2 separate regions of the Homo sapiens genome follow, and region 2 is linked to region 1. The links come from fine-mapping of genetic effects on gene expression. A gene starts in region 1. The other region holds a variant in brackets. All regions are shown on one strand. Distances are between the middles of the regions. Region 1 holds the start of PCID2 (PCI domain containing 2). Region 2 overlaps PROZ (protein Z, vitamin K dependent plasma glycoprotein).

Region 1 (2,900 bases):
TCCAATCCCTCCCTGAAATACACGAGCTGATGCCCAAGGTATGATGACGACTTTCAGCAAGTAGGCTTCACTCTAATACATCGCAAGCTTTTGCCAGCTAAGTTGTATGTGTTCTCATATCCAGATGTGTTTGTTCTCAAATCTATTTTTGCTACCCGAACCTGTTATGGTAGTTATGTACTTTTAAGCTCATCAATGAAATATGAATGCAAAAGGAAACAGTTGTTTCTCTATAAGCTAAGTTGTATGTTTTTAAAAGGCTCACTTGAGTTTGTTAAAAAAATAATTAGGTATGGGGGAAAAATTGTAAAAGATTAAGAAAATTCTAAAGATAATCGTATCAAATTGGTTCTTAAATGCCTATATCCTTGTTTAACTTTAAATAAACTGATATTGGAAAATGTTAAGTCTGCTAAGATTAGGCCAAAACAGACACAGCCTAAAGAAAAGGCCCTGGGCTTACATCAAAAGATTGGCAAGTATAGAACTTGAGGTAAGTGGTGTAAAAAAAAAATTGGCAAGTGAATGTATACTTTCATGTTTTAAGTTAAAAACATACATCCATTTCTTCGTGATTCCTGTTTTAACCAGTTTTCTCAATTAACCAAGCAACTGCTGGGCCCAATCATGTCAGACTTTTCAGCTATCAAGTACGTATCTTTACCCAGTTGTCAACAGACACCTCAAACTCAACATGCCCAAAACTTTATTTCTCCCTCCAAATCCACTCTATTCATCTTTTTCCCAGATTACAAGCCTGGGAATCATTCTTAACTCCTCCGTGTCCCTCAGCCCACCCATTCTTATTCACCACGTCTTGGTAATGTTTCCTTCAAATATTTTAAAAATCCATTCCCTATATTTCCTATCCCTGTTACCACAGTGCTGGTTCTGAAGACAGGCATAGTTTAGTGGAAAGAATATGCGTTGAATCTTTACAAGTGTCCATCTTTTAACTGTGCTTCTGCTACTTACAAGCTGTTGAACAACATCTGTCAGACGCATGTACCGAGCGATATGAAGTGTGCATTGTGCTCGGAGAGTGAAGGGCGTTAAACGACAGCGAGGACGAGGGGCACGAGCCCGGCCTGCAGCACGGCCACAGCCTCGCGCTTACTCCTCCATCGCCTCCTGGAGTCCCCGAATTCATCCCGCATCCTGCTGGGAAACAGCGTCCATCCGACACAGCACCGCCCACAGCGGGCCCTCGGCGTGGCCCGCAGGCCCTTCGGACCGCCTGGGAGCGCGGCCACACGTGCCAGCAAGTGAGGGCAGCGACCTGGGACCGCCGCGTCTACTTACACCGCGACGACTCCGCGATCCACGGACACCGCCCGGCCCCCACGGCGGCCCTGCAGGGGAGAACTCGGGCCGCCTTCCCGAGTCCCGGCCGCCGCTGTTCGGCTCGCGCGGCTGCCCGCCGGGGACCCGAACGGAAGAAGGGTGGCGAGGCGGGAAAGGAAAAGGCCTGAGGGTCCAAGGCAGGAGGGGACACACGGAACACGCCGAGGGCCAACCACGCCGCCGCGCGCTCCCCGGCTAGGACCCACCTGCTGCAGGTACTGGTTAATGGTAATGTGCGCCATGGGAGCGCCGCCGAACGGAGAGCGCCACCCCCTACGCCTCAAGCGGGCCAGCTGGCGTCACTTCCGGCCCTCGGTCCGTCTGGGTCCTGGCGCCCCCGGCCCCGCCGCGGGTGCGCAGGTTGGTTCCGGAGGGAGAACCTGGGGACCGGCTCGGCGACGCGCTCGGGCTGAGGGGGCCCGGGGTCTTTCTGCCGGGGCCCCGTCCTCTCAGCCGGGACGCCAGCGGCTCTGATTGTGTGTTCGGGCCCGCCCGGGCTGAGGGGTTTGGGGTCCAGTGGCGAGGACAGCCCCACGGCTAAACTGCCTTTCACTGCGCTGACCCTTCGTCTGCCCCTTGTGAAAACCAGGCCGCGGAGGACCCTCCGCGCCTGGCTGGGCCAGGGCCTCGGGGCGCGCGCGCCCGAGGAGGGGGAGGGGGAGGGACATGGCGCGCGCTCCCGAGCTCTCATAAGGTGCCTCCGCCGCGCGCTCCCGAGCCTGCAGGAGTTAGGGCACGTCCCGGCGCGCACCCCTGAGCCCTCGAGGTGGTCTCACGCCCGGGGTGGGGGTGCCGAGCCCTCAGGAGGCGCGCGCCCCGGGGCCCTCAGGAGGGTGTCCCGGCTCCCGATCCCCTCAGGAGGGGTGCCCGCGGCACGCATCCCCGAGCCAGGAGGGGGTGCCCGGAGCCCTGGGGGCAGGGTCTCGGTGCGCCCCCCGGAGCCGGGGGTGAGGGTCCCGATCCCTCAGGACGGGAGTCCCGGCGCGCGCCCTCGAGCCAGGAGGGGGTGTCCGAATCTCTTAGGGGGAGTCCGATCCCTCAGGAGGGATTCCCGGCGCGCGTTCCTAAGCCCTCAGGAGTAGCCGGGCGCGGCGGCGGTTGGGCTCGGGCACGCGGGCGGGGCGGGGCGGGGCGCGCGAGGAGGACGGGGCGGAGGCCGCGCGGACCGGGGCGGGCGGAGCGGAGCTCGGCGGGCGGCGGCGCTCGGGGCGGGGCGCGGCGGTTCCGGCCCAGCCATGGCGGACGAGGCCCCGCGGAAGGGCAGCTTCTCGGCGCTCGTGGGCCGCACCAACGGCCTCACCAAGCCCGCGGCCCTGGCCGCCGCGCCCGCCAAGCCGGGGGGCGCGGGCGGCTCCAAGAAGCTGGTCATCAAGAACTTCCGAGGTGGGTGCGGCGGCCGGGTCGAGGGCCAGGCGCCCCGGGCGGGGACCCCACGAGACCCCGCCCGACTTGGGGGGAAGGCCCCGAGATCCGTGCGGGCCCCGGGAGCGGGGGCGCCGGGGCGCCGGCCGGGTCGGGGGTGGCTACGCGGGGCGCTTCGCGGCGCGCCCTGAGCC
Region 2 (2,900 bases), 48 kb before region 1:
TGGGTTGGGCATTGGACGAGGGGAGGGGGTGGGGCAGGCTGAGCCCAGACTGCAATGTGGGCAGAGAGAGCCTTGGCCAGGCCAGCCAGGAATGCCCAGTCTTGAGTCAGGAGACATAGCCAGGGAGCAGCCACCCTGCCTGCCTGCCACCCTTCTACCACCAGCCACTTCACTGAAGGAACGACATGGACTCCATTCTGACTCTGCCTGCACAGGCGTCCAGGAAAGCTGCAAGTCAAAACACCCAGCATCCCCGCTGGCCCCATGGTCTCCCGCTGGCCCCATGGTCTCCCACCCTGAGAGGGTGATCCCCCCGCCCTGCCCTGCCCAGCACTTACCGTAGCCGGACTTAGCTGAGCCCCCCCTGCTGTAACCCTCAGCACCGAGAGAAAAGGAGGGAGGATGGGAAGGGCCTGGGCTTTGACCCTCCCGGAGAGGGAGAGAACATGCTTTGGGACCCTCAGGTGGGAAGAGGCTCCAGAGACCACTGCCGCGGGTCAACTCATTTGCCTTCTCCTCCTGGAAATCGCAGAGCCTGCTGCAATGTATAAGTTTCTTCTTTATGTGTTTTATCAAGATGTTAAATGCTGCGCACAGAGGCAGCACAGGAGCTGATGGCTCTTGGTCCCCAGTTCTCAGTACGGGGACCTTTGACCCCAGCTCAGCCTTCCTTCGCACTCAGACCCAAAACCCAGTTGGAGCCCTCCCTCCTCCACTTTCCTGACTGAGGCCCGTGGCCTCTCTGCAGAACCTTAGTGTATCCGCACTGATCCTGGGGCTGATCCATTCGCCCAGAGGATGAAGTGCTTGCCTACCTCGGGGGAGGGAGTAGCGGGGTGGCCCTGAGGCCCTCGCAGGCTGAGAGCCTGTGGAGACGGACGGGGCTGGGGCTGGCGGCCGGCCGGGGAGGAAGCCAGGCAGCTCTGGAAAGCAGGGCCCTCGGTGCTCCCAGTCACCTGCCTTCTTGTCTCGTCTGTAGTATTTCTCCCGGCCTCCAAAGCAAACGACGTTCTGGTGAGGTGGAAGCGTGCGGGCTCCTATCTTCTGGAAGAACTCTTCGAGGGAAACTTGGAAAAAGAATGTTATGAAGAAATCTGTGTCTATGAAGAAGCAAGAGAAGTGTTTGAAAATGAAGTAGTCACTGTATGTACCCCCACCACAAACCACAGGCCTCCTCATTATTTAGACTTCTGCTGGCCCAGGGAGCATCATTTCTCAGAGATTAAGCTTAATTAATTA[G/GC]CCTATTTACTTACCGATGAGGTTGACACAATCCCAGTTTTACAGATGAGGAAACAATTTAGAGAATCGACTTAATCCACCTTTCCCTACAGCAGTGAGTGGGGCTGGAAGTCAGCTCAGAGCCCACTGGACTCATTTCTTCAGGTCAGGCAAGGCCCACACACTGATCAGACACCCAGCATACATTTTCTTTCTAGGCTTCAAGTCTGAATAATTCTCCTAATTTTAGATACTCCTACCCCAAACTAAGTGTCCCCACTCCCTACAGAGGTATATATCTTTAAAATTCAACTCGGTTTATAAAAAGCGAAAAGGTGATGTGACTTCTATATCATGTGCTTTTGTGGAGGGTGGCGTGGAGATTGGCCCTAGAAGGGAAGGGCCACGTTAGGGGCTGTGGGTGGTGGGTTTGTGCCATGTCATAGACTCTGGCCTTCCTCAAATAGGTGGTGGTAAGCACATGTTGAGTAATATATCTTACAGATACATTTAGTTACTATACATTTAACATAAACAAATAGGCTGTAAAACAGGAAAATTGTGCATTGTTTCAACCACTATTGTCCTATTAAGTGAATAAAATCAACATTTTCTTACCTTCAAGTTCATCTACAGGAAAGAATATAGAAAAACAAATATCCCATTTGTAACATTTTTATGTTTTAACTCTAAAGGATGAATTCTGGAGACGATATAAGGGTAAGTGGTTTCCTTCGTCTCCTCAGAAGTATTAATTCCTCGGGATGAGGTGCGTGGGTGGGCTTAGGACGCTTCACGACCCCAGCTCAGCGGATGCCAAGCCTCTGGCTCCAGGACCCACGGTGTCTCTCCAGGGAAGGGCAGCTCCGACTCTCCCCAAGGACCAGGTCAGGAAGCCCCCGGGCTCTGCCACCAGGGCCACAGGCAGTGCCTGGTTTGTCTTGCCCAGTGTCTGGGTAGTTTCTTGGCACTCTGGGACATGGGCCACAGGCCAGGAGGGCCCCCCCAGAGCAGCTCCTCCAGCCGCCTGGCTCCTGGGCTCCTGGGAAGCCTCATGCTGCAGCAGGGTCAGAACTCGTCTCAAATTTTGGAAAGTCATGGCCCCGATGGAGACTTTGGTTAGGAGACTCCTCCCAAGGGAGGAGCTCTAGGTGGGCAACTGCAGAAGAGCATGGGACAGAAGTAACACAGATGGAGACCCACGGGGCTGGGGGAGGCCAGGGTAAGGACCCACCTGGGAATGAGTAAGCAAAGAGCTGCAGCCACCACCAGACAAGCACGGGGACAACTGGGCACAGAAGGAAGCGGGAGAGGCAGGGAAGGCCGGAGAAGGGCTGATGGGGCGGGACAGAGGGGACCGCGTGCGGACGAAGAAAGGGCACCCAGCAGAGTGGGAGGCACTGGCAGCCAGGCCTTACATCCGGAGCGGGGAGCGTCCTGGGGGCCAGGCGATGGCATGGGGAGCAGCATGAGCAGGCTCAGTCCCCATTCCTGCCACCCCCTGCCCCCCCGTCCTCCTCCTGCTCAGGTCCCCGTCCCTGCCACCTCCTCACATCCTCCTCCTGCTCAGGTCCCCGTCCCTGCCACGTCCCCCCATCCTCCTCCTGCTCAGGTCCCCGTCCCTGCCACGTCCCCACATCCTCCTCCTGCTCAGGTCCCCGTCCCTGCCACCTCCCCCCATC

The links. PIP is the estimated chance that this variant, and not a neighbour inherited with it, causes the effect. A credible set is the group of variants that fine-mapping cannot tell apart.
Region 2: its variant is the best candidate, but not a certain one, in a credible set for the expression of PCID2 in blood mononuclear cells (TOPMed, PIP 0.51).

Annotation. Positions count from the first base shown.
Region 1 is chr13:113,207,049-113,209,948 of GRCh38, forward strand. PCID2 (PCI domain containing 2) reads right to left here and starts at 1,621. Exons shown (of 14, transcript NM_001127202.4): 1 at 1,551-1,621. The coding sequence starts at 1,586. CUL4A (cullin 4A) reads left to right here and starts at 2,565. Exons shown (of 20, transcript NM_001008895.4): 1 at 2,565-2,727. The coding sequence starts at 2,580. RefSeq lists enhancers at 676-1,326, 1,327-1,976 and silencers at 1,511-1,800, 2,061-2,330, 2,431-2,760, 2,821-2,900.
Region 2 is chr13:113,159,035-113,161,934 of GRCh38, forward strand. PROZ (protein Z, vitamin K dependent plasma glycoprotein) reads left to right here. Exons shown (of 8, transcript NM_003891.3): 2 at 980-1,143; 3 at 1,914-1,938. Among named protein-coding and RNA genes, the nearest start is that of PROZ, 1.8 kb to the left of the region's middle. RefSeq lists an enhancer at 251-828. The variant G/GC (reference allele first, on the strand shown) is at 1,240.